Linked DNA regions of Homo sapiens. The protein of the gene in region 2 purifies or fractionates together with the protein of the main gene of each other region. This does not show direct contact. Each region holds a gene or a part of one and is shown on either strand. Other genes may lie near its edges. The genes, in order: GRB10, SHANK2 and CREB3L2.

Region 1 (3,652 bases), on a different chromosome or scaffold from region 2:
AATCCATGCATCATTTGCTGGTCTACGTGGGATAGTTAGCTGGATCTTCCTTTAAAAAATAGGGAAAGTTGGTAAAAGAGAAAAAGTAATACAGTCACAAAATGTGTTTCTGTAGTGGCAAATCTCCTGGGAAAGCTAACGGATTGTTGATTTTGTGAAATCGTAAAAATTGTCAAAAAAATTACTTGAGGACACAGCCTATGATGGGGGTTTCTGAGGTATGTTTAAACATGGGGAGGGATTGGAAATGCCGAGTGAAGATAATGTGAGGTTTGCTCCCCTCTCCTTGAAGGTAGGAGGCTGCAGACAGGGCCGCGTGGCCTCAGGAAGGGTGGAGGAGGCTGTGTGTCCAGGAGTGCCCTGGAGGTGTGGGCCAGAAGTTACTCTACAGAGGGGAGGTGCCAGACACTTGACATTCGCTTTGACTTTGAACTTGATTTCTCTGCTGTTCACAGTTGCTTCTGATTCGTCATACTGTGTGTGTGTTGCATAGTTGTGTGACAAGTGGGTTGTGCATTTTTCGGAGGAGGGAACAGATGCCCCTGGAGATGTGCCAGGAAAGTAGAGGTGGTGTGTGGATTCAGCGTGTGTTTCCAAGGTGTGTTTCTAATGTGGACACAGGCTTTGCGAGGACAGATACATGAAGCTATAATTTCCAGTTAATTCAGTGTCAACAACCTTTTTATATAAGTAACCATCCATTGCATAATTCAGATGAGAACACACAGCCTTTTCTTGTATTTTCATTTGATTAGATTAATGCTCATTTCAAGGACATTGAAAAACACTTGGTTCTCATGAAAATGCTCATATTCAGAAAACTTTCACACATCAGGTATTCACTGATCAAACGGATGAGGTATTTGGAGCTGATGCCATGTCAGGCACTGAATGCTGCCTGAGATGAGCACGCACCCAGGACAACAAAACTTCGGCACCCCGCCCCCCGCCCCCGATGCCTAATGAAGAAGAGAATTGATACCCAATACCCTTTGGGTCTGAGAATGACAACTTGTAATTTTTTTAAAGTTTTCGTTTTAGTAAAATACATGTAACATAAAATTTACCATATTAACTGTTTTTTTCAGGGTACAGTTCGGTAGTATTAATGCACACTCACAATGGTTGTACAATCTCCAGAACTTTCTCATCTTATGAAACTGAAACTCTGTCCCCAATAAACAGCGATTCCCCATTGCCCTCCCCTTAGTCCCCTGGCAGCCACCCTTCTATTTTCTATGGGTTTGAATACACTACCTACCTCACTGGGTGAAATCACACAGTGTCTCTGGTTTTGTGACTGGTGTGTTTGACTCTGCATAATGTCTTCAGGGTTCATCCGTGTCGTAGCCTGTGTCAGAATGTGCTTCCTTTTTCATGGCTGAGTAGTGTTCCATGGTATGGATATGCCACATATTGTTCATCCATTCATCCATCTGCAGACCCTTGGGATGCCTCTACTTTTTGGCTTTTGTGAAGGATGCCACTGTGAACGTGGGCATGCCAGTGACTCCTAGAAGCCCTGTGTCCTGCTTTCTGGGTGTATCACCACAGTGGTAAGGCTGGGTCATGTGGGGAATGGCAGCTTTTAACAGGCACTTATCCCTGCCTTCCAGGCGCCTTCAGGAGGAAGACCAGCAGTTTAGAACCTCATCTCTGCCGGCCATCCCCAATCCTTTTCCTGAACTCTGTGGCCCTGGGAGCCCCCCTGTGCTCACGCCGGGTTCTTTACCTCCGAGCCAGGCCGCCGCAAAGCAGGTGAGTGTGCCCCTGGCTGGAGCCCAGGCTGAGGGATATGCCAGATTATTGGGATCTGCACAGATGTGCCAGATTATTACTTTGGGAAGAAGGGCGGGAAGTCCTGGGATCTTCTCTCTCAGTTCTTTTCTTGTTGTCACAGTACTTGTTGTCCTATGAGGCCGATACAGTTTGGATGTTGTCCCCTCCAAATCCCATGTGGAATTGTAATCCCCAATTTTGGAGGCAGGGCCTGGTGGGAGGTGATTGGATCTTAGGGGTAGATTCCTCATGGCTTGGTGCTGTCCTCACAATAGTAAGTTCTCACGAGATCTGGTTGTTTAAAAGTGCGTGTCATCTCCTCCCCTTGCTCCCACTCCTGCTGTGCGAGACGCCAGTTCCTGCTTTGCCTTCTGGCATGATTGTAAGCTCCTAAGTCCTCATCAGAAGCCGAGCACATGCCCGCACCATGATTCTTGTACAGGCTGCAGAACCATGAACCAATTAAACCTCTTTTCATTATTGATCAAAACTCTGTTTTATCTTTATATTTTAGAAAAAGTCTCATAAAAAATGGCAAATAATAACAATGATTTGATGTTTAAAGATGAATCTTAGTTCTTTGAAAAAGTTTCACCACTGGCTCAATAATAGGTGTGAAAATGCTGGGCTCACCCGGGCACCTGGATGTCAGTACACAGGAGTTGAAGAGTTTCTGTCTTGTAGTCCTGACTTTGAATATGATCTGCCGAAAGCAGAAGAGTTTCCATTGGACCCGCAGGGCAATAACCTCCTTTTTGAACTTGTAGTTTCTACTTAAAGTAGATCCATGAAGTAGATAGGACACAACCATTGTCCCCATATGAGGAAACTGAGGCACAGAGCATTTCAGTAATGTGTCCAAGGTCAAACAGCCAACAAGTCAGCTTAGCAGAGAAACTGGCAGAGAAAGGGGTTGAAAGTTCCTCCCCACCGGTTGGCAGGGCTGTGAGCCAGGATGGGCTGCAGCCTCTGGAGGAAGACCCCTAGGGGTGGAGGTGATCATTAGAACAACTGCGCCATCTGATGTTTATGGAGTGAGGGATTTCTGTGTGCCAGGCCTTGTCGTAAGTGGTGGATATGTTTATTTTTTGTTTATTTATATGTTCATTTACTCCTCATGCCATCCCGTATGAATTAAGTACGCATGTTCCCTCTGTTCCACAGTTGAGGGAAGGGAGGCCCCTGTAAGCAGCTGAGCTGAGTGTGGCTGAGACCTGATGGTGCGGCTGAGTGTGACCCGGCCTCAGAATCGGAGCCTGTGATTGCAGCCACTGTGCTGATTGGCTTCCCGGGACTTTGACTTTCCTTCTGCTAAATGCATATTTAGAAGTCATTTTGCCCTTCTACTTGAATCATCTCTTCTCCCTACTTGCTCTCACTTCCCTACCTTTGCTGTTCTCAAGCAAGACAGGCCAGCCATCCCTTTCTCTGCAAATCTGCCTGTCCTGTGCCATGCAAGGTCTGTCCTCTTGAGAGAGAGACCTTTTTCCAATACCCGCTGGCTCCCAAGTGTGGGTCCCGTTCTGACCTCAGGCCCCCGGAGCAGGCTGCATTATGGCACTATCAAAACTTAGAAGGTGAGGTAAGTGTCCCTCATCTGGGAGCCAGCACTGGCTGGGCTTGTGCACTTTGTCACATGTCTAAAGTGCATCTGGGATGTCTACCTCGCTGGTGACCTTCTGCTTCAAATAAGGATCCAGACAAGCTGTCTGTGGGTTTTGTCACTGAGGTTGTTTACAGAGCTACCCATTCTAAAATAAGACCATGAAAATATTATCTGGCTCTCTCAGCCTTTGGCAAGAAAATTGGCCTCCACCCCCAGGGATTGTCCAAATTTGTAAGCAGAACAAGGAAACCGGGGAATTTTGCCTGC
Region 2 (2,764 bases):
AGGTGGCCTCGCTTTGCCGGGTCCGAGAGGCTCCCCGTCAATTTTGCACGGGATCCTAGCTCTTGTAGGCAGACACCAGTGCACTCTAGATACCTCCTGAGACCTCCGTCCTCTGCTTTCCGGGCAGCTCTCACCACCCCAGGCCCCGGCATGAGGCCTTTCCTCAGTCCTGTGGCCTCTCAGAGGACACCTGATGCTCACCTGCCCCTCTTTCTCCTGCACTTGGCTTGCAGTGAGATGCTCCCAGATGCATTTGTCCAGTGCCCCATCATGGGCCTGAAAGGCAGAGAAACTTTTTCCTACACAGATTCTTTTCCCCATCTCCTCCTGTGGTTTGCATCCATGGCTCTTTGGCCATGAGGTTCCTGGCAGTGCTGGGAGTTTGGATGGGATCGTGCCCAGCTTTGCTTAGCTTTCTTTATTTCTGCAAATCTGTTAGCATAATTCCAAGGTGGCCAAGCAGATGTCACATGGAGTTAGTCAAAGCACAAAGTCACGATTCCACAATGGAGGGGAGACCTGGCCAAGGGAGCCAGCCAGCGTGCAACTGCCCAAGCTCCAGGTCTCCAGGACAAGAGCAGTTGTCTGCCATGAGCACCCATCCAGGATGGAGAATAAGGGCTTCTCTGCCTCTCAGAATTCTTTTTAATTGAAGATGTCTTGAGCTCTGCAAAGATCAGAGCAGGTGAGCATCCACTTTGACATGAAGGACAAGAAGACGCATGGCTCATGGCGGGCACATGCGGCTGCCAGTGAGACAGCGTCTCCTCTGGGAGCTGGGCGGGCACAGCATCCTCAGTTCTGTGCCCAGCCAAGGGTGAGCATCTCTGCTGAGACAGTCCTTTTGCTCTCGGAGGCCAGGGAAGATGGTACTTAGAGGCTTTTCCCCTATCGCTCTGGGTGTCTAGGAATCCCACCAGCTTGTCTTAACAGTACAACAGCTTCTTTGAGGACCCAGTGGGTATGGAGTATAGACAGAACCCAGGGTTGAGAACAGAAGGTGGGCGGCAGGATCAGAGTGAAAGCAGAGGCGTGAGGAGAGGAAAGCAGGGAGGTCTCCTGGGCTGCCAGGTCAGCCTCTCTGGCAAGGCTTTCTTGAGCCCCGCCCCTTTCTTTCCCCGGAGTCCCTCCACCCCATAACAATACCTCGAATTTCCAAAAGAGGTCACCAGATGCACATGGGCCGCAAAACACACAGTCAGGCTTCCAGCACATTCTCCCCCATTTGGAGGATACTCGAATGTCAGGTTTTTGGTTTTATTATTATTTCAGAACTAGCTCAGCCCATCTCTAATTATAAAACATGGTTTTGTTTTTTTTTTTTCCTTTTTTTCTTGATTAGGTCTGGAACAGCTCTAGAATGAACACATAAAATTTAGCAATTTAAAATCTTTCTTTACTGCAAGTTTAAATAGTTGTACAGATAGTTTATAAGCACAATATTTTAAGAAAAAAAAGTGGCTGGTCTACTAGGCAGCCTTTGTGCCACTTCAGTGCTAGAAAGTTAAAGAAAAAAAAACTTTTGTGATTTAATAATACTATTTCTGTGGAATAATTATAAAAGTATGACCTTTTTAAATCAACCTTATTTGGATGCATCTGAACCAGCAGAGCTGTGTTATATTTTCTATCTTTGCTAGAACTTCGTCATTGAAGGACAATTTCTTCAAAGTGGTTACAATTCATAATGCAGCAGTTTCTCCAAAAACAAAAACAAAACACACACCACACACACGCGCTTTTCCAGTCACACACCCCTGATGTTGGAACCAAGTTTTTGGACCTTCTGTTCCAAAACCTTTTGCAGGTCAATCTTTGTATTTGAAATGATCCAATCCAACTTGAAGTCAATTGAATATTAAGGCGCTTTACTTCCGTGTGCTTTCAGTTTTTCCATCATGAGATGAATGAGCATTACTCTAGATAAATTTCAAGACAGGATACTACAGGTGGCCTGCTGAGGCTGCCCCATATTTTAGAAAATGTAAAAATGGTGGTTTGGCCATTAATTTGTCTTCCATTTGATGATACCGCAAAATTCCGTGAGTCCATTCCTTTGGCATGGCACTTTCCCTGGGCCTACAGTTGGTATTACCTCTGTGCTCAGTGCCAGGCAAAACACTAGCTCAAAGGAGAGTCAAGGAAACCGCTGGCAGACGATAACCAGTCGAAACTCGTGACTTCGGTTTGTTGAACTTTGGCAGCCAGTTGGTGAGGGCCAGATGTTATTCCCTTTCTTAAAGATACTCCAAGCCACATGCCACTAACCACAAGCAAGCTGGCTGCAAGACTAAAGAGCTGATAACATAGTTTATTTTTACACTGTCTTATTATAGAGAAGTAATAGACCTATCAGAACCTGCACTGACCAACAAATAAACACATGTTGCCAAGATGAATCGGTCTCTATCTCTATCTGCTTATTTTGGTACTGAAAGCAATAGTTCCTCATTCAAATCACCACCCACTGTTCTCCCCCTTTGGGACATGTTAGGACGAGGCCCTATTCCATGCCCCTCTTTAATGGTGGAACAAATGTTAAACTGCTCATCTAAAGATCATGTTGATATTATTCCAGGTTTTAAGATCAACTTTTGTTACATACTGTAATTTAAATAAACTGCATTTACATGCCTAGTTTCTGTAATATTGTGTATACAAAACCCAAATCTCTCAAAATGTAAATTATGTATACCTGCCAAGATACCTTTTCCAGGGTGTCTGCGCACATTTTAAGTTAATTCACATAATATAAAAATTACTC
Region 3 (4,395 bases), on a different chromosome or scaffold from region 2:
TATGGGAAGCTTGCTCTGATCACTCAGTTCAATCCCATAGTTTGCTCTTCTTCCACCTTGTATTCTCTATCCCCCTCACCTTGTTCTACTTATACGTTTTCCATAACACTTATTTCATCCAACATAATCACTTCTTTATAATGTTTATTGTTTATGTTCCCCTACACACACACACACACACACACACACACACACACACACACGAATATAAGCTTCTAGAAGTCAGGGATTTTGTCTGCTTCTGTTCACTCATGTTTCCAAGTGCTTTATATATTCCACAAATATTAATCGAAAGAACAAATATCTCTCTGACTGAATGAATAATCAGGCCATCCTTTTTCTACATAAAGATTCAGCTAGAGTAACAAACAGCTCTGCCCCTGGATATCTAACAGAGTTCAGGAAACAGATGGGAAAATTATCTCCCCACCTCTCCCAAACGTCCCTTAGTTTGAGAGAAATATAACCCAATCATTTGTGCTGCTAAACCAATACCTCTTTCAACAGTAATTCATATGCACAGTTTGTTGCACTGACTTGCAGCAATGATGAGCAGCATTTTACAGGAATGAGCTGTTCACAACAGACATGTACCTAAGTGGAGGACATAATAAGCATTTTTTAAAAATAGAAATAAAAGAAAAATAATCACACATTCCTGCTTTATCACAATGACAGAAAAACTGGGCTGTTAATATCAAAGCAAATGTAAGGCCTCTACTCCCTGAAAGTGTGCATAAGGTGTTAGTTAGAGCCAGTCCAAGCAGTTCTTCCCAGAGTGAATGCCACAGTCACGGGTAGCATCTCGCACCTTTCCCTGTGAACTCACAAATGCAAGCTACAGGGCCAAAGAACAGCAAGGTAGATGCCTGTGCGTAATTCATCCCACCAGCTGAAAGACAACCCCCTAGCTGTGGCATTGCAGCTGCTGGATGAGACACTGTCACAGCGAAAGAATACTTCAAGAACAAAAGAGAAGGGCTGCCCCTCTGCATATGGATAAAATGTAGCCTGTCAGTAGAAACTCCTGGAGCACCCATTCATCAAAAGATATTTGAGGAACAACATACTCCAAGTTCTTTACTGAGGACAGGAAGCACATCTGGTACCCCAACCTCCGTGCTGCCCACATAGTGTCCCCATGACAAGCTCAGCAAGCAAAGCCCAGAAGATCACACTGAACATCTGGCTTTTGCCCCAGCATGAACTACCACTCCCTCTCAGCCCTGCACTCTGCATTTTTTTTAAACAAGCCACTCTCAGCCACCACAAATACTTCGGTGGGAATCAGCAGGGAGGCCCTCATTCCTTGTCTCAAAATAACGTCAGCCAGAGTCAAAGGCCAAAGAGGTGGAGCCTGCAGGCCATTTTGCGAAAGTTTCAAATATCTTGGTACTGACCCCATTAAAAAAGCGTGAAGGGGAAGCAGCCAAGCCTCCAGTGGTTTTCTCATTAGTGTCCCCCCTCACCCCAGCCCCACCCCCATTACAAACGTCTGCATGGATAAGAATCAAACAAAGAGATCTTGCATAAAGTCCTATGATCAGTGCTGGCTATTGAAAACAAAATTTCATTTTGCAAACTTAATACCAAAAACTTGACATTAAAAACTTTAAAAGAAATGTGCGTGCTCTGGGACAGCTTAATCCCCCAAGAGATCTCTGAGGCATTAGTATAAGACTGAACAAGCAACTGGTGAGCTGTCCCACCTTCCCCAGAGCCTTTCTTAAATATGCAACTGTCTCAGATTTTCCATACTCCTCTGCTGGTTTTTCCTCCGAAGAGGGAGGAAGGAGACTTCTTGGTCGTACAGTTTAAGAAAGCAAATAAAGCCGCCTTTCTCCCTAACGTAGAGGAGCCCTTTCAACACACACACACACACACACACACACACACACACACACACACACGTGTACTTTTTAAAATATAAATATGAAAGAAGAGGAAGGGAGGGAGAGAGGGAGAGAGAATACGAGACAGATGAAAAGGAAATGCTACTTAATCTTGTCCAGTTTTTGAAAACCTCAAAAAAAAATCAATAGCAAACTAGGCGGAGGCATGTTATTCTCAAAACACACACTCCCTCTCCCGCATTACAGTACTGTTAACAACAGCAAATGATATTACAGATGGAAAAAGCCTCAGGGAAAAAAGCATGAATTGTTAAAGGAATACAAAGTGGCATTACTCTCATGAGAAATGTAAAGGGGCCAGCTGCCCGCCTTCATCTGCTCAGACATTAAAGTACACCTCGCCCAGGACCTCTTGATTCTGACCATGCCCTGCCCCAAACCCTGCCTTCCCGGGTCCCAGGACTCCAGCTGCTCCTCGCGTGACAACACTTGCCCGCTTTGAAAGCCCTCCTGCCCCGCCCGCCGGGTCCTCACCGTGTGGTACATGAGGGCCTCGCCGTCCCCGGGCTCTGACAGCTCGCTCAGCTTGCGGTCCCACTGCAGCACGCCCTGCTCCCCGCTCTCCAGCACCTCCATGGCGGTGCGGGCCGCGCTGGGCCGAGGATGCTAAGCGCAGGAGGGGACGCGCAGAGCTGCCTCGGACCGGCAAGGTTCCTCTCTCTCCGCGTGTGCTTGCGTGTGTGCGCGCGCGTGTCTGTAGTTTTGCACTTGGAAAGCAAACGTCTGCTCCTCTGCCGGAGAGAGGATGGCCAAGCGCTCCCGTCCGGTGTCCTCGGAGATCCGAGAATCCCCAGGGACACGAGCCGGACCAAAGGCTGCCGGGGCTAAAGCGGGATGTGCATCCAAAATGAAGGCAGAAGACCCGCTCTCATCCCAGGAAAATCCCTTAGCCGCAAGCCCACTTGCCGCTACGGCTCCAGACACAAACTTTGAGGGACCCCAGGGCTCCTCGGCTCTGCTCCAGGACCCAGCTGCGGCCCCACCTCCCTCCAAGGCTTGACCAATTGGATATCCGCCTTGCCTAGCAGACCCAATCAGAAGTCTCATTCTCGGCTTTGTCCCGCCCCCAAAGGCAGAGGCCGCGGGAAGTCTCCGCCCACGCCTTGGAATGTAGCCGGGGAGTGTCTGTGACGTCACCGAGGAACTCCTCCTGCTTGAGCGCGGCCCGCTGTCTGCTGTCGCCTACAGCTGACCAATAGAGGGCTTGGGTCCGGAAGTGATGGACTGGAGGCTTGACTAATGTGAAAGGGGCGTCTGAAAGGTACAGCCAATGAAATAGCGACAAGAATACATTTTGTAAAAGAGGGAGGGTGAGTTCAGTCCTCTTGCTGAGAATCCTCAGAAATTTACCAGCGCGCCGACAGGGGGCGCGAGAGTTGTTGCGCGGGGGGCTTAAACATTTTCGAGTACTTTAGTTCATTTGAATCTCTCGGAATTTTTTTAATGGATTACATATTATACAAAAATACAAATATTCCTCATGCACATACATTTATATTAGTGCAGCTCTAGGAAATTGTCATTGTTCTTCACCTTTTTCGCCCATTTTCTGTTGGGTTCTTCTATTTTTTATGGACTTCACTTATTGTATGTTTTTCTTTCATCTGCTTGATAAGAGTCAATGGCATGCTTTTCCAGGTCCTACAGAAGTGAGCCCAGTCCTTGAATTCATAGAGCTTTTATCTCAGAGGAGTCAGGCAATAAACAAAGAAATAAACATTTAAATTCAGAAAGTGGAAATTGCTATAAAGAAAAATAAAAGCAGGAAAACAGGATGCGTCAAGATCGATGCTATTTTACGTGCTGATCAGGGAAGTTCTTCCTAAAGGAAATGAGATTTCGGGGGAAGCTGGTATTCACGTGATTGCTGGGGAGGCCAGTGTGGCTGCAGCAGAGGTGCTTGGCAGGGAGGGGTGGGAAAGGCCAGAAAGGTGAGCCAGGGCCAGAGCACCAGGCCTGCCTCCTAGAATAGGGAAGAGATGGCCTGTTCTAAAGGAATTCCCCCGAACACTGTGATTCTTCTTCCTCCTTTTTAATTCCAAAAATATAGTTTACCTATCTTAAATATAAAAGCAGGTCTTTGCCAGTTAGCTCTAGAAGTTTCTTACAATGGCACATTCAGGTATTAGCTATTGTGTTGTTTCCTTGGCAAGTATTTTTTGGCGGGTGGAGACAAATGTCTTTGAACTCTATGTTGTCTTTAAAGCAGCAGTTTATCATATAAACTATTGCATTTGTCTGGTCCTATCTTCTGGGGTCTTTTGAGATTTTTTTTTTTTTTTTTTTTTTTTTGAGACAGTCTCACTCAGTTACCCAGGCTAGAGTGCAGTGGCACGATCTCAGTTCACTGCAGCCTCCACCTCCTGGGCTCAAACAGTTCTCCTGCCTCAGCCTCCTGTGTAGCTTGGACCACAGATGTGCACCACCACACCCGGCTAATTTTTAAATTTTTTGTAGAGGCAAGATCTCACTTTGTTGCCTG

The links.
Region 1: the proteins of SHANK2 (region 2) and GRB10 purify together in Homo sapiens (affinity purification with western blotting, with the first as the bait; one study listed by BioGRID). This does not show direct contact.
Region 3: the proteins of SHANK2 (region 2) and CREB3L2 purify together in Homo sapiens (co-immunoprecipitation; one large-scale study listed by IntAct). This does not show direct contact.

The regions. Positions count from the first base shown.
Region 1 is NC_000007.14:50,667,828-50,671,479, reverse strand, and holds part of GRB10 (growth factor receptor-bound protein 10), read left to right. Parts: intron 1-1,616; coding exon 1,617-1,758; intron 1,759-3,652.
Region 2 is NC_000011.10:70,469,825-70,472,588, reverse strand, and holds part of SHANK2 (SH3 and multiple ankyrin repeat domains protein 2), read left to right. Parts: 3' UTR 1-2,764. UniProt on the Homo sapiens protein: Seems to be an adapter protein in the postsynaptic density (PSD) of excitatory synapses that interconnects receptors of the postsynaptic membrane including NMDA-type and metabotropic glutamate receptors, and the actin-based cytoskeleton.
Region 3 is NC_000007.14:137,999,217-138,003,611, forward strand, and holds the start of CREB3L2 (cyclic AMP-responsive element-binding protein 3-like protein 2), read right to left. Parts: upstream 2,871-4,395; 5' UTR 2,490-2,870; coding exon 2,388-2,489; intron 1-2,387. UniProt on the Homo sapiens protein: Transcription factor involved in unfolded protein response (UPR).